Linked DNA regions of Homo sapiens: all the other regions are reported to be linked to region 1. The links are microRNA targets in miRTarBase. Many come from high-throughput screens and were not tested one by one. Region 1 holds a microRNA gene; each other region holds the end of a gene's coding sequence.
Evidence for each region. Region 1 holds the annotated microRNA hsa-miR-4665-5p (CUGGGGGACGCGUGAGCGCGAGC, at 2,131-2,153, shown strand). A microRNA usually pairs through its seed, bases 2 to 8, with sites in the 3' UTR of a target mRNA and lowers its output. Matches are read on the target gene's strand: a 7mer-m8 pairs with bases 2 to 8, a 7mer-A1 pairs with bases 2 to 7 and ends in A, and an 8mer does both.

Region 2: miRTarBase lists MEN1 as a target of hsa-miR-4665-5p. Seed matches in the 3' UTR shown: 8mer at 4,117-4,124.
Region 3: the mRNA of SECISBP2L is a reported target of hsa-miR-4665-5p. Seed matches in the 3' UTR shown: 7mer-A1 at 2,168-2,174.
Region 4: miRTarBase lists RCE1 as a target of hsa-miR-4665-5p. Seed matches in the 3' UTR shown: 7mer-A1 at 4,190-4,196.
Region 5: miRTarBase lists WNT9B as a target of hsa-miR-4665-5p. Seed matches in the 3' UTR shown: 7mer-m8 at 3,387-3,393 and 8mer at 3,967-3,974.

The regions. Positions count from the first base shown.
Region 1 is chr9:6,005,705-6,010,828 of GRCh38, forward strand. MIR4665 (microRNA 4665) reads left to right here and starts at 2,122; the gene lies at 2,122-2,200. It overlaps BRD10 (bromodomain containing 10), which reads right to left and starts at 2,778. Exons shown (of 8, transcript NM_001017969.3): 1 at 1,491-2,778. The coding sequence starts at 2,083. RefSeq lists silencers at 1,246-1,305, 1,696-1,855, 2,046-2,275, 2,326-2,845 and enhancers at 1,446-1,675, 1,807-2,308, 2,309-2,808.
Region 2 is chr11:64,800,161-64,805,284 of GRCh38, forward strand. It overlaps MEN1 (menin 1), which reads right to left. Exons shown (of 10, transcript NM_001370259.2): 9 at 4,874-5,038; 10 at 3,356-4,656. The coding sequence ends at 4,174. MAP4K2 (mitogen-activated protein kinase kinase kinase kinase 2) reads right to left here and starts at 3,054. Exons shown (of 32, transcript NM_004579.5): 1 at 2,894-3,054; 2 at 2,725-2,782; 3 at 2,403-2,493; 4 at 2,259-2,323; 5 at 1,906-1,961; 6 at 1,550-1,597; 7 at 1,419-1,461; 8 at 951-1,023; 9 at 740-871; 10 at 604-666; 11 at 151-232; 12 at 1-56. The coding sequence starts at 2,989. RefSeq lists enhancers at 984-1,033, 1,124-1,173 and silencers at 2,684-2,863, 3,014-3,193.
Region 3 is chr15:48,987,918-48,993,041 of GRCh38, reverse strand. SECISBP2L (SECIS binding protein 2 like) reads left to right here. Exons shown (of 18, transcript NM_001193489.2): 18 at 116-4,404. The coding sequence ends at 798. Among named protein-coding and RNA genes, the nearest start is that of SHC4, 27 kb to the right of the region's middle.
Region 4 is chr11:66,845,518-66,850,641 of GRCh38, reverse strand. It overlaps RCE1 (Ras converting CAAX endopeptidase 1), which reads right to left. Exons shown (of 8, transcript NM_005133.3): 7 at 5,080-5,124; 8 at 4,090-4,782. The coding sequence ends at 4,547. PC (pyruvate carboxylase) reads left to right here. Exons shown (of 23, transcript NM_001040716.2): 19 at 178-422; 20 at 526-705; 21 at 783-1,031; 22 at 1,272-1,412; 23 at 1,495-2,222. The coding sequence ends at 1,743. Among named protein-coding and RNA genes, the nearest start is that of RCE1, 4.6 kb to the right of the region's middle. RefSeq lists an enhancer at 1-398.
Region 5 is chr17:46,875,868-46,880,867 of GRCh38, forward strand. It overlaps WNT9B (Wnt family member 9B), which reads left to right. Exons shown (of 4, transcript NM_003396.3): 4 at 378-4,693. The coding sequence ends at 851. It also overlaps a transcript of LRRC37A2 not described here. Among named protein-coding and RNA genes, the nearest start is that of WNT9B, 27 kb to the left of the region's middle. RefSeq lists enhancers at 552-1,152, 2,462-2,961.

The DNA.
Region 1 (5,124 bases):
TTCATAACTTCAAAATAATAACGTGAATGGATTGTTTTTTATGTGAGTCACAGCAATAATGCACTGTGGAGACAAGGGTAACAAACACACTACAGAAATACAAAATTACTAAAGTATTAAAAGTAATTTACAAAGCAAATATGTGAATAATTATTCTATTACTAAATAATCCTACTCTATGAAAGGATTCAAGAAGAGGTTCCTTAAAGAGAGCTCACTTAACGAAGACAGGCACTATGTTAACTGTTTTTGGTGAAAAAAATCACCGTTAGTCTTGAAAATGGCATATGGGAAGCCAATGACAAAGGTTACTTTTAAATTACAGTGACAAATCAAGAACCAAAAAATTAACACAATTTCTAGGAGCTATTCTGTAAGAGCACAAGTATAATGCCGTTTCAGATATGAAGTATACACTCATATTATTCAACGACTGCTACTACTTACATTAAAATGGCTAACACTTATACTTGGCTAACTATGGGAGCAGCACTGTTGATTTCACATTTATTAACTCATTAAATCCTCAAAGCAACTCTATGAGAGAAGTACTATTATTATCCCCGCTTGATAGATGAGGAAACTGAGGCCAAAAAGGTTAAGTGACTTGCTCAACTTAAATTCACTCTAATAGTAAACAGTCAAACTACTATTCCACTTCAACTACCAATACCAAAAACATTGAATTTTTCCACTCCCGAAAAATTTAAACTTTAGAAATTAACTTGGCTGACACAGACTATACAATTATTATAAAACAATACATTCATTTTAGTATCCTCCTCTTGTGTTAAATAATTGGATATATGGGTGGCGGATACCAAGAGCACAGTATCATCTGACTTGCCTATGATTTCTGGTAGAATAAACATAAATGTATAAACTTTAAAAAATGTGTGTTGATGCATTCCCTATTATTGCAAAAATTGGGTGTCCTCAGATGAAACGGAGAGAAAAGATCAGTAGTATGCAAAAGTAACCATTAACCATTTAGTAACACTCCATAAATCTTCGATGACCGACATGGGTAGTAAATGATAAAATTATTTTTTAATGGTTTAAGACACCTTTTTACATAAGCCAAAATTATTTTTCTAGAGATATTTCATCCTAAACGCTGTTTTAAATGTCATGCTAAAACTGTCTAAAAGTTGCAGGTCCAACTTCCATCCCACAAAAACTGTTCCTCTGCCTACACGTGCAATTCTTCCTACGGGACCCATTCCATTTTACATCTGCAAACTATACCCAGCTCTTCAGCGCTGCAGACTCGGGTTTCCTTCTCAGTCTACGCGCAAGCCGGGTTCGGCCCACACCCACCACACCCCTCCGGTCCCCGCCCAGCGCCGCTCCTCCTCCCGGGCTTCTCCAGCACCGACTCAGCACCTATCAGCGCCGCCCCCAGGCCCCTGGCCCAGCCCATCCTCGGGCACGTGTGAGTGTGTGTTTGTGTCAGTCTGTCAGTCCCACCGGGGACCGGGCTCGCTTACCGAGAGAGAAGCGCTAACTTCTGCTCCAGCATCATCTCCAGCTTCTGGCCCTGTTTGGAGATCCAGTGGTCCACTCCGTGCAGGCGGTAGCACGTCTCCAGCATCAACCTGAAGTCCGCCACGAACTCGGTGATGCCCCCGTACTGGCCGCTGGCGAACTTCTCTTCCATCTGCAGCAGACACATGCCCTGTCCGGGCTGCTGCGGGAAGGCGCGACCGCCCCGGCCCCCGCTGCGCGGCCCTTCCGCCACCTCCTCCTCCGCGGTGGCAACGCCCCCCAAGGGCTGCAGAAAGGGGGCGGTGAGGCCCCGGTGCTTCTCCTGCAGGAACTCGCCCAGGATGCGGTAGCCCTGCTGTAGCTCGTAGGTCAGCTCCTGCTCCTTGCAGCAACCGCCTCCGATCACCATCGCCTCCATCTCTTCCTCCTGATCGTCCGCGTCCTCCAGCGAGGAGGCACTCCTTCCGTGGGCCGGCCCTGAGGTCTGGGCCGCCGCTGCCACCTCCTCCTCGTCGTCCTCTCCTTCGGCCGCCGGTGGCGGCCGCTCTTCCTCCCCAGCCGGCTCCATCGCTCCCGGCGTCCCGGGCACACTCATGCCCCGGCAGGCCTAGGCTGGGCGGTGTGGAACAGCCGCTCGAGGTGCTGGGGGACGCGTGAGCGCGAGCCGCTTCCTCACGGCTCGGCCGCGGCGCGTAGCCCCCGCCACATCGGGCCTGGCTCTCCTCAGCCGCCGGCTCGGCTCGGTGCGCGCGGGGGTCTTGAGCTCACCGCCGGCGGGGCGGGGTTACATGGCGCGCGAGGAGGGGGGAGAGAAGAGGAGAGCCTAGGTGCCCTCCTCTCCCCTCCCCCCCGGCGGCGGCGCGCGCACGGCCCTCGCCGGCCTCACCCCTCCGCACCCCGCCCGCCTGCTCTTCACCGGCCAGGCCCTGCCGGGTCGCCGCGGCCTCGGCGCCCCACCCCCTCCCGGGCCAGCGGGGGGCTGGGAGGGGGCGAGGAGGAAGGGGGTTCTCCTCTCCCCTCCCCGGAGGGGGCCGCAGCGGCGGCTCCGGCTCCTCCTCTCCCTCACACCCCCTCCCGCCCCCCTCTACCTGCGGGGGACACGGGCAGAAGGAGGCGGTGCACGGACGGGGCCCGGCGACAACTGTCAGTTAGAAGCCCCGCTGGGCGGTGAGGGGGGAGAAAGGGGAGGGGCAGGGAGAGAAGGGGGAGGGCACTCAGCCCCCCGGCTGGGAAGAGCTGTGGAGAGAAGCAAAGAAAGAGGCCCTGTCGCCATCCCCGGTGCGCATGCGTAGTAGAACAATTCCCCCCTCCCCCCCCGCCACCATCGTGCCCCGCCCCGCTACGCAAAAGGAAGAGCTTCGGCTCAGCTACAGGCCCAGAAGCCTGCTAGGGTTGCGCGGACCAATGATGTAATCAATCGTAGGCCAATCGAACATGTTGATGGAGGGGGAAGCAAGGCGCCTGCGCAGCTTAATTCGCTACCGCCTGGGAAGGTGGCCAAAAGGCTTTTTTTAAAGCAAGTGCTTCAAGAGGAAACTTCTTTTGCAAGACCCGTGTTAGCCCCCCAAACTAAAATTAAAGTTGCTAGATAACCTTTGTTAATGGCAAATGAATAGTGAGAAAGCGCAAAATGTAAATCTTCTCTACTATAAAATTTACATTCTGTTCCCACCCTTTCTCCCTTGTGACTGCGGGTCTTCTATATATAACCAGAATTTTGAGAAGTTTAGAAAGAAAGTTTAAGGACTCGACCATACGTTCACATGCAGAAGAAAAGGAAGTGATTTTTAGAACCCCAGCTCTTAACATCAATTCATATTTTGGAACTAATTCCATGTTTTCAGTTACAAATTTCCACCCTCCCGATTCTTGAGATCTGTTAAGAATAAAGAGAATGGAACCTCATTTAAACAAATTCTTGGGACTGAAAACAGTCAAAATAGTTCATGTCTGAGTTGTACAGCATTAAACAGTTGTTTGCATGGGCTGATAATCTCACTACATTTTACAATTACTGTTTAATGACTAAAAAGTGGACTCATCATTCACATTGGTTTACATGTTACTTAAAATTAGTTGGGAGGTAGGAATTCATGGTTCCATAAAGCAAATACTACTATTTCCTCATGTTCTATTTGAAAGACGCACATATTATTTTTTCTAGGTACACAGAACCCTCGTTAAAACCTAGAATTACCTAAACACAAAAACAAAATTACAGAAATCATGCATTTTAAAAGTAAAATGTGTATAACTAAATGATTAGGATACTCTGACTCTTGCAATTGTTTACTTCTCATTAATGTGAACTTTAAAGCAGTGATAAAATTTTTTTTTAACCTCAAAGCTGTTTTTGTCCAGTAAGTTAAGTATCACTCTTAAGTAAAATAGTGAAGCGGGAACGCTCTGTTAGGGTATTCACACTGTCCTCCACACATACCTTTTATCTAGTATTCGAGGTCTCCTCTCATCAGACATTTGTAATATATAACGCATTTACAGGGTTCTCTCCCCTCAGAGAAGAGTCTGTGGACTCTGAAGAGTCCACAGAACCTCAGCTCACAGAAAGAAAAATGCAGGGATCAGTCTTACTTCAGCACCTGGCAACCAAAACGTGTGTCTGACTAGACATTCCTCCTTTCTTTCGACAAAGCCCAGGAATCTGAAGCCCAACGTACCCAAGCAAACATCCTCTACTCCTCTTTAGTCATCAGCTCTATTTCATGACTCTTGGACAATATTAGCTTACATTATTGAACCCTGTGCCACTAAGCACTTTATATTCATTGTCTCCTTTAATCTCACAACAAGCCTATCAGCTAGGTATTAACCTTATTTTTCAGATGAGGAAACTGCCTCTTAGTTTAAGAAAGTTGTTAAACAAAGTTAAAATCTAGGTCTGTCATACTTCAAAAACTCCAGGTGCCTAATTCCAAGTCATCTGGCAGAATTTCTAATTCCTCATACATAAAAGTGTAGGGAATTGCTAGAAATGTTGATAAAGGGTTTCTTAATTAAGATTATATAAAAGAGAAAGGTGTGGGTGAGTAGAAGGAACCTCAACTCTAGGTTATGAAGAGGTCAAGATGATAGCAACTTAACTATAATGAAAGTAGGATCGGGTCCTTGATCTTAAAAAAGAAACTCTATTACACAAGAAATATGGGCTGGGCACGGTGGCTGACACCTGTAATCCCTGCACTTTGGGAGGCTGAGGTGGACAGATCACCTGAGGTCAGGAGTTCTAGACCAGCCTGGCTAACATGGTGAAACCCCGTTTCTACTAAGAATACAAAAAATTAGCTGGGAGTGGTGGTGCGCACCTGTAATCCCAGCTACTCGGGAAGCTGAGGCAGAATTGCTTGAACCTGGGAGGCGGAGGTTGCAGTGAGCCGAGATCGTGCCATTGCACTCCAGCTTGGGCAACAAGAGCAAAACTACATCTCAAAACAAACAAACAAAACAAGAAATATGTTGGTTGTAGGTATGTAGGTAAATTAGAAAATATAGGTAAGTGAGGAGAAAATTTGCCACTTAATCCTACCACCTAGAGAAAACCTCTATTAATACTTTGAGGTGGGATTTTTCTATTCATTCTTCTATACTTTATTTATCTTAAATATACTAAAAATTGTG
Region 2 (5,124 bases), not on the chromosome of region 1:
TTGTCCAGCAGCTGTGTGAGGAGGGCCCGAGGGAGCTGCTGAGTCGTGAACGGGTGCTGGAAAGTGGGGGAGGGGGGTGATCAGGTTGGCCCCTGATCCAGGGCCCTGCTTTTGAGTACTGGGCCTCTCTCCCGGCCCCCTGCCTCCCACCTGCAGGAGCTTCTCTGCTGTCGGCCTCTTCTTAGGATTCTTGGTCAGGGCCAGTTTGAGAAAGTGGTGGAAATTCTGGGTCCTAGAAGGCACAAGAGCCCCCCAGCGCCAGATCCAGGTTAGCCCTCGTGCAGGGTGTCCTGCCAGCTGCCCTACCACCCCTCCAGAGGCGTCTGCTGGGCCCACCCAGGAAGGAGCCAGCCGAGGCCAAGGGCCACTGGCCGAGCAACGCTGCCTTGCGACACAGCGGCTCCTCCACCAACCCTCTGCCCTTCTTTCCTGACCACGCTGGGTCTTCAACCCACAGAAGGACCAGGCCCCTGACTCAGATGGTCTGTAGTAGCCCAGAAAGGACAGGGCTCTTGGGGTTGCCCCCCGGGAGTTGGCAGAGGCTGTTTGTCCACTATGGGGCTGACAGAAAAGGGGGTCCCGGCAGCAGGGTGTGGCCCTTACCAGCGAGTCTTATCTCTCAGTTTGGGCGGCTGGAAGCTGCTCTTCGACATGAGCATCAGGGCCCTGTGGAGGGCGCGAGGTCAGGGGCCACAGGCCGCAGATCAAGGGTCAGGTGAGGGGCAAGTGTTGGGCTGACCTCATGGGGTGCAGGTGGAACAGAGGGGGCTGCAGCTCGCCCAGCTCAATGGCAGTGATGCCCAGGGCCCAGACGTCACATAGCTCATTGTAGCCACCTTTGCGCTCCACAGCAGCCACCTCGGGAGCCATCCTAGAGGTGGGGTCACAGATGGGATGGCCGGGTGCCCTGCTCTGTGGCCCCTACCCCTCCGCCCCAGGCGCAGCCTCACCAGTAGGGAGTCCCAATGAAAGACCTCCTCTTGGCCACAGACGCTGTCAGCTCGCCTGACACCCCAAAGTCAGCTGTGGGGAGAAACAGCCACTCTCACCAGCCCTCTGGCTGCCACTCACCCTCCCACGCCCAGGGCTCTGGCTCGGCTGCACCTGGCAGGGCTCAGACGGGCAGGTGGCCCCGCTTGGTCACAGCTGCCGCAGGCCCTAGGCAAGGCCAGGTCCCTCTCCTGAGAGGGGTCAACCACCCTCTATCCCTGACGGAGTGCCTGGTCCCATGTCAACTCCGTGCAGACCCAACCTCCTCTATTTTCCAGCAGGGAGGGAGTACCGTTCCATCTTCTAAGCAGGGAAACTGAGACTCAAGTGGCAAAGTGACTTGCCCAGTGACACCCAACCCTTGAGTCCAGGGTAGCCGGGGAGGGTCCACAGAGCCCTCACCCTGATGGTGTCCCCAGGGTACTGACCCAGTTTGACATCTCCCTGGAGAGTGAGGAGAAGGTTGGCTCCCTGTGGGAATGGAGGAGAGACAATCCCATCTGGTGCCCCCGAGGGCCTCCTCCTCCCTCCCCAGGAGTGCCCCCAGCTAGGTGCCTACCTTGATGTCTCTGTGGATCTTCCCCTGAGAATGCAGGTGGTGGAGCCCCTGGCGACAAAGAGGAGTCCCTGAGAGCAGCCACCCAGCACTGTCCCACCTCCCCAAACCCCCTCTCAGGACTGGGGCCCCCCACTCAGGCTGCTTCTTCCTCCCCTCTCCCCAAACAGGAAGTGACTGAGCCAAGAGGGAAATGGACTGCTTCCGGCAACAGGGCTGGGGCCCCTTTTCCCCAGGACCTACAGCCCCTCGGGCCAGCCCCACCCGAGGCACTCCACCCGCCTCCCTGCTGGTCATCTGGGCTCCTGGCCCACAGCTTCTGGAGACCAGAGGTGTGGGCACCTCACAGGCCCAGCTACCTTCAGTGCCTCTCGGCAGACGTAGGCAATCTGCCGCTCCTCCAGGGGCCCAGTGGCTGAAAGGAAAAGGGAGAGGCTGGCTTGGGGGCCCGGGGGTCATGCCCACCCTCCCAGGCTACCGTGTGTGGGAAAAGCAGCAGGCACTGTTAAATGAAAGCGGTGTTGGCCACGTCCCCTCCCAGTTTAGTCTAGGATACTGAACCCAGAGATGGACAGTATTTCTCTCAAGGTCACACAGCCAGGCAGGAGTGGAGAGGAGCCCAAGTCCAGGGCCCAGAGTCCCCTCTGGTACCCCAGTGGGGTAGGGGTGGGGGAAGGCTGGGGCCTGCTGGGGCCTGGAGCCCTGGCCTCACCATGGTAAATCTCCTGCAGGGAGCCCCCTCCGCAGAACTCCATGCAGATCCACAAGCGGTCATTCCTAGGGACAAAGAGCTGGGGTGGGCACAAAGCAGGTCACATGGGGGCTGCCTGGGGCCAGGAGGATAAGGCAGCCTCACCTGAGGTAGCTGCCAATGTAGGCCACCACATTGGGGTGGCGGCACTCACGCAGGATGGTGATTTCCTGCTGGAGGGAGCTGATGTCGTCCCCTGGGAAGCACAAAGCATCATGGGGAAGGCGCGCTGGGGTTGCCCTGACTCAGTGCCCCCATCTGCAAAATGGGCACAGAGTGCCTCCCTCCGGGCCAGGCAGGTGCAGGTGACAGCACCTCCCGGGGCACGCCTCTCAGGGGTCTCGGAAACGTCAACCCTCCGCCCGCACCCCGCGCCCGCGGGCGCTCTGCCCTTCCTCTGGCGCAGAGGCCCGACCCGGGCCCTCACCTGGGTCTAGCTTGACTATCTTCACGGCGGCCAGTTCGGACGTGACCGTGTCGCGGGCCTGCAGGGGCGGAGGGTGAAGCGGGATGGGGGGCGGGGCCGGGGGCTAGATCCTGCCGCGGGGTGCGGGGCTGGCACCCTCCTCCCGGCTCTCCCGCCCGTCCCGTCGCACCTTGTAGACGTCGCCATAGGTCCCGGCCCCCACGCGCTGCAGCAGCTCGAAGCGGTCCCGCGGGTCCTGCAGCGACACATCCCGCAGCAGCGCCATGGCCCGGCGCCGGGCGGGCCGGCAGGCGGGCGGGCGCGAGCTGCGGAGCCGGCGCGGGGCGGCGCGGGGCGGGGCGGGCGCCCGTGGCTCTGAGGCCGCGGGGGCGGGGCTGAGGCCCGGGGGCGGGGCCGCGCCGGGGATGCCCCACCGCCAGTCCGGGAGGAGGCGCCCGCGGGACGGGCCCTCGGCGGCGCGGGGAAGCCCCAAGGCCGGGGCGGAGCCTACGTCCTTCCGCCGCCACTGTCGCTCGCGCTCCACAGGTAGGGAGCGCAAAGTCCCGGGAGCCAGAAGACAGAGGGAAGAGGGGGCGCTCCACTCCCCGCCCCATCCCCAATTTCCCAGATAAACATGGACTTGCGCTTTATATTTTTTTTAACAAAATGTATTCATCTTTCTTGGAACTGAAAAATAAATCTATGTACAAAACAGGAAGAGATCAGGCTCTTGTCACCCACTCCTAACCCTCTGCAGATTTCCTCCGGGATGCTCCGAGATGGGCTGGACCTCTGGGAGGTTCCCAGAGGGTCGGAAGGGAGGTCCTGCTCTGATCCGGGGCCAGTTTCGTCAGGAAGAGGGCGGGGCTCAGGATGCTCATAGGCTGGGGGCGGAGTTTTGTGTCCCAGACTCGGGATACGAAGGAGAGGAAACTAGGATTTCCAAATTCTGGAGCAGGACTGAAGTTATTTGGGGCAGGGAGCTTGGATTCGCAAGATATGGAATTCTGAAGTGCGGAAATATACTCCTAGGGGCTGAGTGGTCCTAGGCTCCCGGGCTGGAGGTGGGACCTGTGCTCCTTGGGTTAAGGGTGAAACCTCAGCTCCTACAAGCTGGGAGGAGCCCTGAGTAACGTTGGTCTGGCTCTAGGTGAGCGGTTCCGAGGAGGAGCTTGGGTTTCTAGGGGCTGGGCCTTTAAAGACTGGTAATTAGGACCCAGCGTGAGGTTTCCATTGGCCGGCTGGGATTCTGGGAGAAGAGACCTATATTCTAACGACTGGGGCAGAGCCCTGGGTTCTGAGCTGGAGAAAATCGTGGGTTTGATACAGACTGTACTCGGGACCGGGAACCTAGGGTTTGGGTAGAGGTGAGGCCTGTCCCCTTTGGGCTGGGGGCAGAACATGGGCTCAGAGTTGGGGGACTAAGGGCGGAGCCTGGGTCCCCACAAGCGGTCCGAAGTCCCCAGTAGTTCAGAGGCCTTTGCGCTGCCGCTTGAGGAAAGACAGAGTGTAGTCACTAGGGGTGGACACTTTCTGCTTCTTCATCTGCACTTGCGACTGTGCCGTGAGTTGCAGCTTGATGGCGCTCGAGTTGATCTTGGTGGCCACCAGCAGCTCCTTCATGCCCTTCATCTTCTCACTCTGGAAAGTGAGCACTGGACCCTCCGGCGGTGGTGATGCTGTGGGTGCTGGCACCTGAGCCGTGCTGCCACCTTCAGGGCCTCGGGCTGTGCCAGCGACAGTCCCAGGAGGCTTCCGGGGGGGTCCTGACACTGCACCCTGGCCGGTGCCCAGGCCCTTGTCCAGTGCTGGCTTCTTGGGCGGCGGGGGCTCCTCTGGCTTGGACTCCCGCCGTGGGCCCCGCCGCCGGCCTTCCCGGGCTTCCTCGCCCCACGGCTCCTCGGCCTCGGCCGCCTCGGCCTCTCGGCTCACTATGCGCACCTTCTGCCGCACCTGGGCCAGTGGGGAGAGCAAGGTGAGAGCAAGGTTGCCGGCCAGTGGCTGGAACTCCAGGACCCTGCTCTGGCCATCCCATCCCACCCAGGGGGTCTCAGTCCCATCGGCACCCAAGGGGATGGGCAGATGCTGCCCCTGGGCCAGAAAAGTCTGACAAGCCCGTGGCTGCTGTCACCACCTGTAGTGCCCAGACCTCTGTGCAGCTGTCCCTCACCTGTCCCTCAAAACGGCCTAGGGACTGCACAAGAAAGGTGGCCCAGCCCACATGCAGCACAGGCGTGGGACTGCCCTCCTCCCATTTGCAGATGCCGTCGTAGAATCGCAGCAGGTGGGCGAAGCACTCAGGGTCCTGGAGGGCGGAACCTTGGCTCTGGGTGCCCTGGACGAGGGGGAAGGGAGGGCACAGATCAGTCTCTTACTCACCCCTTAGCAGAGGGCACAGGCCAGGCCCCCCACCTAGGCAAA
Region 3 (5,124 bases), not on the chromosome of region 1:
TCTAAGCCAACAAATTTATATATTTTGTTGTTCTTTCTTTTTTGGGGGTTTTTAAAGAGTTGCATGATTTTGAAACAGTGTTCTGGTTTTTAAAAAATCTGCTTGATACTTGTAGAAACAAATTGGAGAAACATGGTGGAAACTTCAGATGGACTGGAAGCATCAGAAAATGAGAAAGAGGTATCCTGTAAGCACAGCACTTCTGAAAAACCCAGTAAACTTCCATTTGACACACCCCCAATTGGTAAGCAGCCATCATTAGTGGCTACAGGCAGTACTACCTCAGCTACAAGTGCTGGGAAATCCACAGCAAGTGATAAAGAGGAAGTGAAGCCAGATGACCTGGAATGGGCCTCACAGCAGAGTACAGAGACTGGCTCTTTGGATGGCAGTTGCCGAGATCTTTTGAATTCCTCCATCACCAGCACCACCAGCACTCTTGTACCTGGCATGCTTGAAGAAGAAGAAGATGAAGATGAGGAGGAGGAGGAAGATTATACTCATGAACCCATATCTGTAGAAGTGCAGCTCAATAGTAGAATTGAGTCTTGGGTCTCAGAGACCCAGAGAACTATGGAAACCCTTCAGCTTGGAAAAACCCTTAATGGTTCTGAGGAAGACAATGTAGAGCAAAGTGGAGAAGAGGAAGCAGAGGCGCCTGAGGTGCTGGAGCCAGGGATGGACAGTGAGGCATGGACTGCTGACCAGCAGGCCAGTCCTGGGCAGCAGAAGTCCAGCAACTGCAGCTCGCTCAACAAAGAGCACTCTGATTCTAATTACACAACGCAAACTACGTAACTCAGGAAATGTCGGCTCTCTATCTCCAGCTGTGGAAGGGTTGCAGCCATTACCTTTTATGCTTCATCTCAACATTTTGCACTGTCCAGTATTTAATATACGTATTTAATTCCCAACAAATATTTTTGTAGCTTTTACTTGTTATGATCTGTAGCTTAGCTTTTAATTAGTATCTAAGTGTCTTTCTAAGAACTGTGTGGAAAATTCAGATCTGTTTCAGCTTATTTTGTAATCAAAAACAGTGATAAAAAGAAGACCAGATCTTAAAGAAAATAAATTTCAAATGCTTACTTAAAAGACATTTTGAAAGTTAAAGAACAAGGTTCTAAGGATAGAAGCAGTTATCAGTGTTTGCTTCAGGACTCCACCTCCTCTACTCTAATTTGACCAAAAAATTGTTTGGGCTTCTTTAAAAAAGAACTGGGGGTGGAGTCAGAAAATTAAATGAAAGGCTGAGGGTAACTAAGTCCACCAGTGTTGTATGTTAAAAAATCAATGCAACTTTTATGTGGTCCACAAATGTTTAGTCAGAAGTCACTGATTATTGTAATTAATTAGTGTTGGGATGGGCTAAAACAGAGCCTTCAAAACTTCGGCTAGCAGTGGAGCCACCATCTTAGATTATAGCTAGCTAGCCTCATTTGTGGAAAGTGATAGATGCTGTCTATAATAGTGAACAGTCACCCATGATAGGACCTCCAGGTTCTGTCTCATATTTGCTTCTTACTTACCTCAGGAATGCTCTTGTACATAGACTTATTTACAAAAAGCTAGGCACATGTTGACAGGTGAATAACTGTAACCGATTGTATGACTGCTGCACTTACATGTAAACTCTTCAGAAACAGAGTCTTATACTGGTGTGTTCTCTTGCATGCTTCTGGTTCAGGACTCTTGATTTGAGATATGGATTTGATTGAGTATCCAAACTTGTCCTGAGTGCAAAACTGTTTCACCTTTTAAAAAATACCTATTTTGCACCTAGCCTTGAGCACCTTCCACATAGCAATGACCATAGTTACTGTCAGGAGGTCAAGGAAAGGAACTTTGCACAACTTGTGACATGTATCCTGATAATCAAGGCTTAGAGGAGGAAGTTTTAGAAGATAAGAGAAAGTTGTTCTAATTGTGCTGAAACTATTAGATGATTTAGAGTATACAGATATGTAGGTATTAATTCTCTATTCACTATTATTTATCTCTGCCCTTCTCTAGGAGTTTGTATACCTGCTTAGGAGACAATAAATGAGCTAAATGTTTTATTTGCTAGTCAGTCACCACCTGGACTTCAGTGACTTTACAAGTTTATGTAATGGTGGAAGAATGACAAACTATGTAATTTTTTTGTCTTCCATCCAACTCCCCACCACCCCCAACTGTCCCCCCCACCCCCCTCACACACATGCACACATCCGTACGTGTGTGTGTTTTCCACTTACAAGCTTCCATAAGCAGGCACAAAACTGAGAAGGAAGGGGTATTATCCCTGCCCTGATTATCTGGGGCAGGGCTTTGCCTCACAGAGGCAGGAGAGAAGAATTGGGCAGATTCTTTACTGAACTCATTGGGACTACTGTGCTAGTTTTGATGTTTTATAATGCTGGCATTTAATTACTGGAGAGATTGGATTCTTGGTTGATGATTTAGTATTTGTGAATTGTGAAAGTTCAGGAGCTGTGTAGAAAATGTTAGTCAATCAACTTTATTATTGTGCTAAAAGGGGACATTCTTATACTGTCCTGTCTAAACTGTTCTCCAGTATAGACTTCCTAGGCACTAAATATCCAATATTTAAAGGAACACAGCAGGTAAGGAATGAAGCCTCTGAAATAGTACTCATGGATTTATACATGGCAGATCTTACTGTCTCTACACATTTGGAAGTGTTCGTTGGTTTAAAGAAATGATAGAGGTTTTGAACTACTGACAGTCTTAAAAGTGAATTTAAAAACTGTTCATACTTTTTATGGTGTAAATTTCCTTTGCTCGATGTCAGTGATTCAGATAACTCTTGACCTTGAGATGATGGCTTTTCACAGGTTTCTTATATTTTATATCTCTTCTGAACATGAATTGTCATTTTAGATTTTTGACATTTGTATCAAAAGAGAAGTTGAGGAAATCTTCAGAACACTGGTAACTTTTAGTTTTGCTATAGACTTCAGAAGTGTTTATTTATATGTTCGGTAAATGCTCTCGCATATGCAGTACCTCTTCTGCCAGCAAATCCAAGGGACCATAGCCTTTTTATGAGACAGGTCACCTCTAGAGGACAACCCAAGAATTATTAAAGGAAATGTTACCATTTTGAGAGCATGCTTAAATAAATATTAATAATGTCTTTATAACTTGTTTCCTTTAAATTTTGGAATATTGAATTACAGGCTTTGGAGGAGTTGTGAAAATTAGGAAAGTTTTTATATATTTTTTGAAGTGGGCATGGTTGGCTCTTTGAAGACCTATAAAGAGATCCAGTGGGAAGAGTAAGGGTTGGTTCATCATCACAAGAAATAAAAAACATAGTGATTTTTTCTCTTAATGTGTAGAGGTGGTTTTACTGGCAATAATTAATAATAGATTTCTATTTCAGTATGTAAGCATATTAACTAAAATATGAATTACACTTCCAAAGTTAGATTTCTGCTTCAGTAGGTTTGTTTGCTGTGAAGATTACTTCTCAAAAGACAGATGTTCATATTAGCTTAATTTTCGGTTTAAATATGTTTGTAAATGATGTAATATATTTCTTTTGACTAAATGTGGAAAAGTAATGTGTGTTATACATTGAGAAGTTTTTACTGGCTTTGACTGGAGGTTGTTTTTGCAGAGATGGTATTTTATATGATTCCAGTATTTGGAAAAGAATTAGTCAAAAGGAATTCACATAGTTTAAATACTGAGAAATTAATATCCAAATATGTACTTGTCTGATTTCTAAATAAGCTGGGGGAGGAGGGAGGGGTGGGAATTGAAATGTGCAAATGAGTAGTGAATGCTACACTCATTTTCAACTCTTTAACATGAAACTGTTCAATCTTAACACATTGTTACTTTAATATATGTATAAAGAAGTATTACTGTTTGTAAAGCTGCTGTTTGCTTAAAAAAAAAAAACACCCTTGTCATGTATTTTCTGTATGTTGGGCCAACAGGTTAGAACATCAACTCATTTAAAAATTTTTATCTTTTTTTGATTTAAAAAAATTCTGTGAAATAATTTATTTACAGACATCTTCCTCCTCCCTCATCCCTTCCAACCTTTACATACATCACAGAATCAACCAAACTGTTTGCCTAATCTGAAATCTGAATCCTAATGAGAAAAATTTAAATTTTGTTGGCACATCACACCTTGAAAGTATTTGTATTATTTTATAATTTAATTTCTAAATATACCACATAAGTTTATAATTTAATGTCTTAATTGTAATGCTCTAATAAAAAACTAGCAAAATTAGTGTGAGTTATAACATGAAGGGATTTTCATCTTTTGCTGTATGAAGGATAATTGTTATATCACATTTGGGGGGTAATAACAGCTTTTTTGCACTATGTAAATACTAGTGGGGATTCTTCTGTACTAATAAAATGATTATTGAAATGAAATCTGTCCTTTCAGAAGAGATACTTCAAGAGTTCATGACTCCCCACAAGTAGAAGACAGAAAAAAGAGTCCAGCTTGAGTATTGATTGGTGGTCATATGGAGTTGCCAAAAAAGGCTGTAAAATCGTCACGAAGGAGTTAAGAATAAAAATCTCCATCTGGGATGGTTGGTGTGATCTGCGGCATGGGCCCAGGCGTTTAGCCAGAGACCATCCTGGTTATTAGGAGAAGGCTTCTATAGATTCCTTCACCTTTTTATATTAGTTCCTCTGTGCTGGGCACTGTTCTAAGTCTTTTCCCAGTATTAACTCAATCCTTAAAACAGTCCTGTGAAGTAGATTTTGGTTACTATTTCTCACTTTTCAGATGATGGAAGAGTCATGGAGATGTTAACCCAGCCCCATACCAAAGCCCATGCCCCAATCACTGTACTTTGTTATGTCTTGGCATAAGGTGCACAGGGTGTGCAAGGCAAACATGCTTCCTTCACCTTCAGGTGTCTTTGGGAATGTGGAACAGGAGGACTGAAGAGGGCCTTGGGGACTAAAGTTATTGGGCCTCACCTCATCGCCCTTTCCCTAAGTAGCCCCAGGACTTCTCACTATGTCACAGTGAAATGTAGGGAATCTGAAAAAGTGCATTCATCTGTCAGAAAATAGGATACTAATTTTCATAACAAAGAAATGAACTTTTTGGTGATCACAAAGCGAAGGAGAATGCCT
Region 4 (5,124 bases), not on the chromosome of region 1:
TCTCAAAGCCGCAGCCACCACCAGTCCCAGTAGTGTTGGACCTGCCTAGGATCCAGATGCCCTGCTCTGGCCTTGCCGCCTTCTGTCACCTGAGTCAGACATGGGACCTGAGCTAGCCCTGGGTCCTGGAAGAGTCACACATTTCTAAGGCCTCCTCTGACTCTGGCCTCCCTGCAGAGGTGCCCATGGAGCGCGTGTTTGACTACAGTGAGTACTGGGAGGGGGCTCGGGGACTGTACGCGGCCTTCGACTGCACGGCCACCATGAAGTCTGGCAACTCGGACGTGTATGAAAATGAGATCCCAGGGGGCCAGTACACCAACCTGCACTTCCAGGCCCACAGCATGGGGCTTGGCTCCAAGTTCAAGGAGGTCAAGAAGGCCTATGTGGAGGCCAACCAGATGCTGGGCGATCTCATCAAGGTGAGCCCGGCCCGGTGCTCCTTACCTGACCCAGCCCTGCATGCACCTGCCACTGGCCTCCTTGAGGTGCCTGGCACCCTAACCTCCAGGGCCTTCTCCTCAGGTGACGCCCTCCTCCAAGATCGTGGGGGACCTGGCCCAGTTTATGGTGCAGAATGGATTGAGCCGGGCAGAGGCCGAAGCTCAGGCGGAAGAGCTGTCCTTTCCCCGCTCCGTGGTGGAGTTCCTGCAGGGCTACATCGGTGTCCCCCATGGGGGGTTCCCCGAACCCTTTCGCTCTAAGGTAGGGAAGGCCCAGCATGGTGTGAGGGTGGGGGCTGGATGCAGGACTTGGGACTGATCCTCTGCTTTGCTCCCCAGGTACTGAAGGACCTGCCAAGGGTGGAGGGGCGGCCTGGAGCCTCCCTCCCTCCCCTGGATCTGCAGGCACTGGAGAAGGAGCTGGTAGACCGGCATGGGGAGGAGGTGACGCCGGAAGATGTGCTCTCAGCAGCTATGTACCCCGATGTGTTTGCCCACTTCAAGGACTTCACTGCCACCTTTGGCCCCCTGGATAGCCTGAATACTCGCCTCTTCCTGCAGGGACCCAAGATCGCAGAGGAGTTTGAGGTCAGTGGCTCTGGCGCTTCTCCACACTCCACCCTGGCCCCCTGCCCCAGAGCTCTGGAGTTTAGCTTGGCTGTCACCCAGCCTCGCAAGCTTTGGGAGCAGAAAGGACCCTTGAGACCGGGAGCTAGGCCTTTAGGAACGAGGAGCCAAGGCCCAGTGTGGGGACTTCCTATGGCCAGGGCCGGGGGACTGCTCTCCCACCTTGGCGTCCAGCTCTGAGTCTGCACACCCTCCCTGCAGGTGGAGCTGGAGCGGGGCAAGACGCTGCACATCAAAGCCCTGGCCGTGAGCGACCTGAACCGGGCCGGCCAGAGGCAGGTCTTCTTTGAGCTCAATGGGCAGCTGCGGTCCATCTTGGTCAAGGACACCCAGGCCATGAAGGTATTGTCTCCCCCAGGGCCAGCCAGGCGGTGGGGCTTGGCTGGGCCCAGGATGTCATGTCCCCTCTGCCCTGTGTCTTCAGGAGATGCACTTCCACCCCAAGGCCCTAAAGGACGTGAAGGGCCAGATCGGGGCGCCCATGCCTGGGAAGGTGATAGACATCAAAGTGGTGGCAGGGGCCAAGGTGGCCAAGGGCCAGCCCCTGTGTGTGCTCAGTGCCATGAAGATGGAGACTGTGGTGACCTCACCCATGGAGGGTACTGTCCGCAAGGTTCATGTGACCAAGGACATGACACTGGAAGGTGACGACCTCATCCTGGAGATCGAGTGATCTTGCCCCAGACCGGCAGCCTGGCCATCCCCAAGCCTTCAACAGAAGCTGTGCTGCCACGGCAGGCCCAGGCCAGCCAGTGCCCGAGGCCAGGAAGGCCGGGCCGTGGAGGTCCTGTCCACAGCTGGACAGGAGAGACACCGCCTGCGGTGGTTCATTCCTTTCAGCCATCGTCCTTTCCTCCGGCGGACAGCTGCTTACATGTTCATCTCTTGCCAAATAAGGGTCCCCTCCTCACTGGAGACTACAAGTGGTGGGTCAGGTGGTCCTAGGACCCAGGGGAGGTTTAGGGGTCCTATCTCCTGGGGGAAGGGGAGATCTAAGATGTCCCAGGTCCTGGGAAGTTTACTCAATAAAGCTGGCTTTCCCCTGCCCTCCATGCTGGATCCTGTGCAGCCCCCAGCCTGCACCACTCAGCAGTGGGGGGCTGCCTTTCAAGCTCCCCATGGGTGGGCAGGTCAGTTGTGTCGTTCTCCTCAGAGGGTAGTGAGAATGACCATCGTGGCCCTGTTTTAAGTCACTATTGGGTGCCTACTGTGTATACTCCCCAAACAGGACTAGTAGTACTGAACTTGCTTGAGGGGTGGGGCCTGTTCTAAGTATTTAACACCTATTAACACAGGGAATTAACCTTCATCCTCTTATGGACACAGAAATCAAGTCACAGGAAGATTAAATAATTTGTCCAGGACTTCACAAGTAGTAAGAGAGAGAGATGAAACCCAGGCCGTTGGCAGACTCGCCTCCCAACCCCGCTGCTTTATTTTCTAAAACCCAAGGCCAGCGTCCCACCTCAGTTAGCAGGTAAATGCAAGCAGGTACCACCTTGTGGGCAGTGGGTAAGACCCTCGGGAATGGTGATCCGGGAGTCTTGTGTGTGCTCTGGATGTGAGAATGTTGGTGGGAGGTGAGGGGGAGCACCGGGTCCAGGGTCTCAGGTTCTAACCCTGCCACTCCCCATGACCACCCCTCCAGACTCCTGCTCAGTTCCCTTTCCTGCAGTGGGGACAGTAACCCTGCCTGCACCACTGCCCTCCTGCCCACCTGCCCACAGGTAGGGAGAGGATGGTGAAGGGAGCAGGAGGCTGGGCAGTTCCTGAGATGGAGGGGTGGGTGTGGGGAGGCCGATGCAGGAAATCAGCCTCTGGATGGGAAGCACCCAGCAGGCCTCTGCCCAGTGCTCCCAGAGCCAGTCCAACCTCTGGGATGGGCAACTCACAGTGGGCTTGAGCCTCTTCCTTTCTGGACCGCCATGTCCTAGATGTACCCCAGGAGGCAGATGACTGCGATGCTGCCCCTTCCATCCGGGTGGATGTCGTTGTCATGGCCAGCCTGCAGGCATCGTGGGGGAGTGACCGCACATCCTTTTTCCCTCAGTGGCCAGCCTCAGAGAAGGGACCTTGGGACAACCTCCTTGATTGGGGAATGGGACCTAAAGGGCTTTCTTCCCTCCCCCGCCCCCCCTGCCCCCCACCCCGGAGATGGAGTCTCGCTCTGTCACCCAGGCTGGAGTACAGTAGTGTGATTTTGGCTCACTGGAATCTGTGCCTCCCAGGTTCAAGTGATTGTCCTGCCTTAGCCTCCTGCCACCACGCCCCGCCTATGCCCGGCTAATTTTTTGTATTTTTAGTAGAGACGGGTTTCACCATGTTGGTCAGGCTGGTCTCGGACTCCTGACCTCAAGTAATCCAGGGCTAATACTCTTTCAGGAATCTAATTTTAAAAGAGCACAGGCAGGGAAACGAGAGCCCTTCCAAAAATGATGGAGAGCAGGCAGAACACTTGCAGGTGCCGAGAAGGACCCTGGAGTCACTGTGTTGCTTGGCAAAGTCCCTGCTGCCCTCAGGGCTGCAGCCTGTGTTCTGGGTTCCTCTGGGGCAGAGGTCAGAGGTGGAGAGAACCAGAAAAGCCTCTACTTATGGTGACTCAGGGACCTATTTCCTCTTGTGAAAAACAAGACTGGCAGACTGTGGAGGTCCTGGCAGAGGCTTCAGGCCAGTCATCTTCCCCTCAGAGGAGATACGTCGGAGGCTCCATCGCTGAGGTCAGGGCCAGGGCCATGGTTCCCACTCCCTGACCCGTCAGCCAAGGCACAGGCCCCAGGATGAGCTGGGCTCACACCTGGTACCTGCAGTCTCAGAGCCAACCACACTAGGACTTTGGGGCATGGTTCAGGAAGGAGGAAGCCACAGGCTCCCAGCAACCAGAGCTCCCAGCCCATCCTGTACTCCAGGGAACTACCCGCCTGGATGCACCGCCCAGATGTCAGTGTTCAAGGTAGCTGGGACAGGTGGTGGGCACACTCCCAAGAGCTGCCTAGAGTCTTCACACAAGATCCCAAATAGACCGATTCCCAAAGGCCCAAGGCCATGTTACCCAAGTTAAATCTCTTTAATATCCCAATACAAAGTACTGATGCAAAAAGACAATGAGAAAACCCAGGAAGTTGGGGGGTGGGGGGTGGGGAGAGGTTTTATAAATAAAAAACCCCGAGCAGCTTTTCAGAGGCAGAGGAGCTAAGAGAAGCAGCAGTCCAAAGTGAGGAAGGGAGTGTGTGGCTCCTGGGACCTGCCCCTTGTCCCCTCACTCACAGCTGCTCGTAAACACCCCTTTCAAAAGGGGCTGCACCCTTTGGATATCTGCTTCTTTCTCTTGGTCCCTGGGACGCAACTAGCTCTGGCTTCAATCCCCTACAAAAATTCCTGAGATCTCGGGGACCCCAGCCAGCCCTTCCCCTGCAGTACCCCTTGGTGGGGAGGGCTGGGGAGCCGGTGAGAGTTCATAGCGTATCCAGGAGCATAGGTCAGGAGCACAGGGGAGCCTCTGAGTCCCCTGCCCGCTCCAAAAGCACACAAAGGGGAAGGCTGCCGTAGAGCTTGGGGTCCGTGAGGGGCTGGAGCAGAAGCAGGAAGAGTCCCACACCCAGGGCATAGCCTGCCAGCAGGGGCCGCCTCTGTGGGTGCTCCAAGGCCGCGCAAACAGCTGGGAAACCCATGTAATTGCAGAAGGAATGGCAGAGAACCGGCCCAATCAGGTGTCCTGGGGAAAAGAGACAGCAGCTCAGGGAGCAGCCCTACCACCTCCTCTGGCCCTTCCAGGGCTAGTGACCCTCATCCCCTGAAACAGGAGATCAAGATCCCACTACCCCAGCCATCCACCCACACACCACGGCCTCTGCTCCTTTCCACCTCTCAGACCTCACCAGGCTGAGGGCTCTGGCTCAGCCTGTCTCAAGGACTGGAGTAGAAGAACTTTTGTTCCTAGAACAAACAGTATTCCCATTCTCCCACCCGCTCCTGTGGGCCCCCAGGGACCCATGAGGGACTGAGGACCAACCTGTGCGGATGAAGAGGAAAGCAGTGTAGGCACCGAAGACAGCTG
Region 5 (5,000 bases), not on the chromosome of region 1:
GAGGCTGGGAGACACCAGTGCTCTAGCTGTTTATGAGATTAAGTTCTGAGTTGTCATCACTGAGTTGTGAACCGGGGCTGCTGTGTTCAATCATTGAGTTGGTGTGAACCGGGGCTGCTGTGTTCAGTCACTGAGTTGGTGTGAACCGGGGCTGCTGTGTTCAGTCACTCAGTTGGTGTGAACTGGGACTGCTGTGTTCAGTCGCGTAAGTTGTCTATTCCACAAGAACTCCAGGCCAAGGGGAGGAGCTGGGGCTGAGACCCTGGGTCTCTTTCCCATTCTCCTGCCTCTGCCCTGCTGGGGTTGGTGCTCTGGGGGCAGGCTCTGGCTGCTGGGCCCAGGCCTCTGACCACGCCTCTGTTCTGCCTCCCCCACAGGCTGTGAAGAGTGGCCTCAGGACCACGTGTAAGTGCCATGGCGTATCAGGCTCCTGTGCCGTGCGCACCTGCTGGAAGCAGCTCTCCCCGTTCCGTGAGACGGGCCAGGTGCTGAAACTGCGCTATGACTCGGCTGTCAAGGTGTCCAGTGCCACCAATGAGGCCTTGGGCCGCCTAGAGCTGTGGGCCCCTGCCAGGCAGGGCAGCCTCACCAAAGGCCTGGCCCCAAGGTCTGGGGACCTGGTGTACATGGAGGACTCACCCAGCTTCTGCCGGCCCAGCAAGTACTCACCTGGCACAGCAGGTAGGGTGTGCTCCCGGGAGGCCAGCTGCAGCAGCCTGTGCTGCGGGCGGGGCTATGACACCCAGAGCCGCCTGGTGGCCTTCTCCTGCCACTGCCAGGTGCAGTGGTGCTGCTACGTGGAGTGCCAGCAATGTGTGCAGGAGGAGCTTGTGTACACCTGCAAGCACTAGGCCTACTGCCCAGCAAGCCAGTCTGGCACTGCCAGGACCTCCTGTGGCACCCTTCAAGCTGCCCAGCCGGCCCTCTGGGCAGACTGTCATCACATGCATGCATAAACCGGCATGTGTGCCAATGCACACGAGTGTGCCACTCACCACCATTCCTTGGCCAGCCTTTTGCCTCCCTCGATACTCAACAAAGAGAAGCAAAGCCTCCTCCCTTAACCCAAGCATCCCCAACCTTGTTGAGGACTTGGAGAGGAGGGCAGAGTGAGAAAGACATGGAGGGAAATAAGGGAGACCAAGAGCACAGCAGGACTGAAATTTTGGACGGGAGAGAGGGGCTATTCCATCTTGCTTCCTGGGATGAATGGCTTGGAGCCAGCATGTTCTTGGGAGGTGAACTGCTGGGCTAGGAATGCCAAGGCAGGCAGTGCCAGCTGGAAGTGAAGGCGGGAGCCTGGCTGAGATGGGTCAATCGGGTCCTGTGGCCCTGCTCAGGTGCAGTGGGCTCCAGGTGTCACACACCTCCACCACTCCCCTGGTTTTGCTGTGCCAGAGATGGGGAGAAAGCACAGGTGGTAGAAGCCATCCGTTCAGAGAAAGGAGAGCTTTCTGTGCTTGAGTGGACCCGAGTGAGATCTGTGCCCTGGAGCCCTGTGTCCTTGATTTGGCTTTTCAAATATGCCTCCGCTGAGGCCTCATTCTTGTCTCGAGAGCTGGGTTATGCACACTCACCCAGCCGTGCTCAAAACTACCACCAGTGCAGGTAAGACAGGTGGGAGAACTAGCCACCAAGGCGGGACTCAGTGCACCTGAGGTTGAACAGGGAGACAACGGCCCCTCCCTGTGTTCCCTGCTGGCCAAAGGAATCTTCACTCCCAGCGCAGAGGAGGAGGGCAACAGCTTCCTGGTGCCTGGCAGTGACGTGGCGAGCTCAGTTTCTCAGCTGGCTCTTGAGTGAGCTTTGGTGACTTCCTGTGGCTGGGGCCTGCCTGGTCTGTGACACCCCCATACCAGCTGAGTTCACAATACTGAAGAACAGCTGGCTCACGAGCTATGACTTGAAGTTACATTTCTATTCTTGTGGCTGCTCATCTAGTTAAGGCTTTTGCCCTGGCTGGGGTTATAGGTGCTTGAGTCCTTGCTAAGCCTGGCTCCTGGGTAGCCTCCTTCAGTTCCTAATGGCCTCTCACTTGGCCCTCACTTTGGCTCTTACTTGAGGAGGAGACGTGACTTTGATAATTTCCTCAGATCCTGTGGACATTTTCAGCAGCACCTGCCAAGGCCCTCTGTGAAAGGAGGAGAGACTGGTACCTCCACACAGGCACACATGGATGCACAGCCCCTGGACCAGGCTGGGGGTTCCTGTTGCACATGCCTCTCTTGTTCAGGATGAAGACCTTGCAGGGGTCCCCTTGCTGGAGGCATTGTACTTCCCCAGAGTGGGGCCCGATGCCACCCAGGAGGAAGTGACTTCTTTCGGGAAGCCCTTGGCCACTTTGCTGGCCCTGCCACGCCCATCTGTCAGCTTCCTTTCTCCCTAAACCTAGAGTTGCTGACCCTTCACCAACACAGGAAATTTCAGAATCAGCTGAATGCTCAGAAACCTCGCCTGTGCCAGCTCCAGGACAAAGGCCCGCTGACTGTGCCCTGGCCAACTCCCTGAGACCTCCAAGGGCGAGGAGGAGCTGCCCAGTCTCCAGTGGATCAGGGCAGTCTGCTGGATGCTGGAAGGATTTTTGACTGCAGAGGCCCGGCTGAGAAGCCAAACTGACCTGAGCCCCTCTCGTTAAAATGACATTGCTGACCCAAGCACCTGGCCCACACCTTGGCAGCAGGAGAAAAATGGGGAGAGGGCTGGTTTTCTCCTTTCTTCCACTTCCCCACAGCATGGAGATTTTCTCTGCCTTCCCAATCCATCTTGCTCCTCCGAGACCCCAACTCTGCCTCCACCCAGGCTCAGTGCTGGGCGTAAGGCAGCAGGGACCTCACTGGCAGAGCAGGGGGCCTGGGAGCAACGTGGAGGCCAGAGCACCCTGATCCACCAACATGCCACCTGCATTCTGACTTCATGGCTGGCAGTGCCAGGGTCGTGGGAGGGCAAAGGGCAGGCTCTAAGGCATCTAGGCAGTGGCTGGCTGCTAACATGGACACCCCAAGTCAATGGCACAGTGCAGGTTCTGAGGGCTCCTTGGCTTGTGGGGTCTTCTCTGTCTGTCTCTCTCCCTCTCTTCTTCCTTGCTCTCATCCCTTTCTTTTCCAGTTACCCCTGAAGACCCACCTCGGCCCTCTTGGGGCCCCTGGGGACTAGAGTGACCACTGACCCCTCATTCTACAGCTTTAAGGGAAATGCTCACAGGGTATTTTTGTCTACCTCAAATATATAGTTTTTAGAGCAAAGGAGAATAATTTATATAGCTAAGATATATGAGAAAGTATTTATATTATTTATATAGTTGCTATATTTCACAGACAGCACAGGTGGGGTTTGTGTATTTTCCCGGAAACCCTCTGTCTGGGGAGATACAGCCTGACCTGACCGGGTCCCCCACTGAGCAGGAGGCCGGGTCGCTGGGAAGGAGGACAAACCTGTATTCCATGACTGGGTCTGTCTCGGAGCTGGTAAGCACATGTCCGCTCTGTGATGAGCCCTGGTGGGCTCCATCCAGACCCTCCTTGTGATGTTTTTGTAGATTTTCTGCCCTTCTGGGTCCAGGCCCCCTTCTTCTGCTCTGGCAAAAGTGTCTTACTCATAATGATAATGACAACGAGAATTCCCACACCTGGCATTTGTAAAGCACTTTGCTATTTAGAAACAAAAACTTTTACCCCTTTCATCTCACTTGATTTCTCCGTTATCTCTGTGAGGTAGGTGGGGCCACATTACTGTGGCCATTTTATAGATGAGGTCCAGAGATGGAGAGCTGTGCTCAAAGTCACACCTAAGAGACTTGTTCAATGAATATTTACTGAACATCTCCATAGACCAGGCACTACGGGCTGACCTGCTCTGAGCCCAGGAGCCCCAAAGCCTGGATACCACTGTGAGCCCAAGAACTCAGGGAAGCAGTTCCTTCCCAGGCTGTGATCCCAGCCTTTTGGATCTGGATGGCATGTTGGCACTTCCCCCAAGTGGAGTCCCATGTCTCAGGGGCTTTGGCTGCCTGAGAAGGCTGGAGAGACCAGGAACCCATGGAGGCCACTCCAAGGGGTCCTTCTGCCCACACTGCCCAAGAAGCTTGGGCTACACCACTGGGCCCCTCCCAACCTACAGATGAATTTTGATTGCTCTCATTTGTGTTTTGCTTGTAAAAATGAATTGTTTTCCACTGGATTTCTGGCTGCTTTTGCAAAAGTCAGCTGCGCTGGCAGACTGGGCCTGCATGTCCTCCTGCAGGCAGCTAGAGTGAGGGAGTCTAATGGACAGGATGCCCCAAGTGCCCCCGTTGCTCATGGATGCCCCTGCCTGCCTCTCATGAGCACATAGTCCTGTCCCCTGGTCTAGATAAGCCCAGCTTTCCTGGTACCCTTCATCACCTGGCAGACAGACAGCCCCATGCCAACCCTGGACATTACTTGCTTTTGAACCTTTCCTTTCTCAACAACCATGAACTTCAAATGCTTTCTGTCTCAGGACACTTTAGAATAACAATGGAAGCCATCACTTATTGAGCACCCCTTATGTCCATTTATTCAACCAATGATTATTTAGGGATCTCTTATTGAGCACCAGGCAGCATCCTGGGTGCTTGGTGCAGCAAGGAACAGGACCAAGTCTCTGCCTCATGGGGCTGACATCCTAGTGGGTGAGAAAGACAATAAACCAATAAATGACATGCCAGTTATTTGCATTTACTTTGTCTCAATTTATTGCAATAACTTTGCACATTGGACATGGTCCCCGTAATGGATAAGGAAATGGAGGTTGTGAGATGAGAAGCCTCCTCATTGCAACTGGCAGGCAGTGGGGCCAGGATTGGAACACAGATCTCCTGGCCTCCAAAGTATGGGATTTTTTTCCTCTGTACACTGGTATAGGTCGGGCAGGGATGGATCGCCCCATTTTATTGATTCTGGGTAAACTAAGGCCTAGAGGAAGGAAATAATCCATCCTGGATTACACACCAATTCAGACAGGCCAGAGCCTGCATCCTTCCT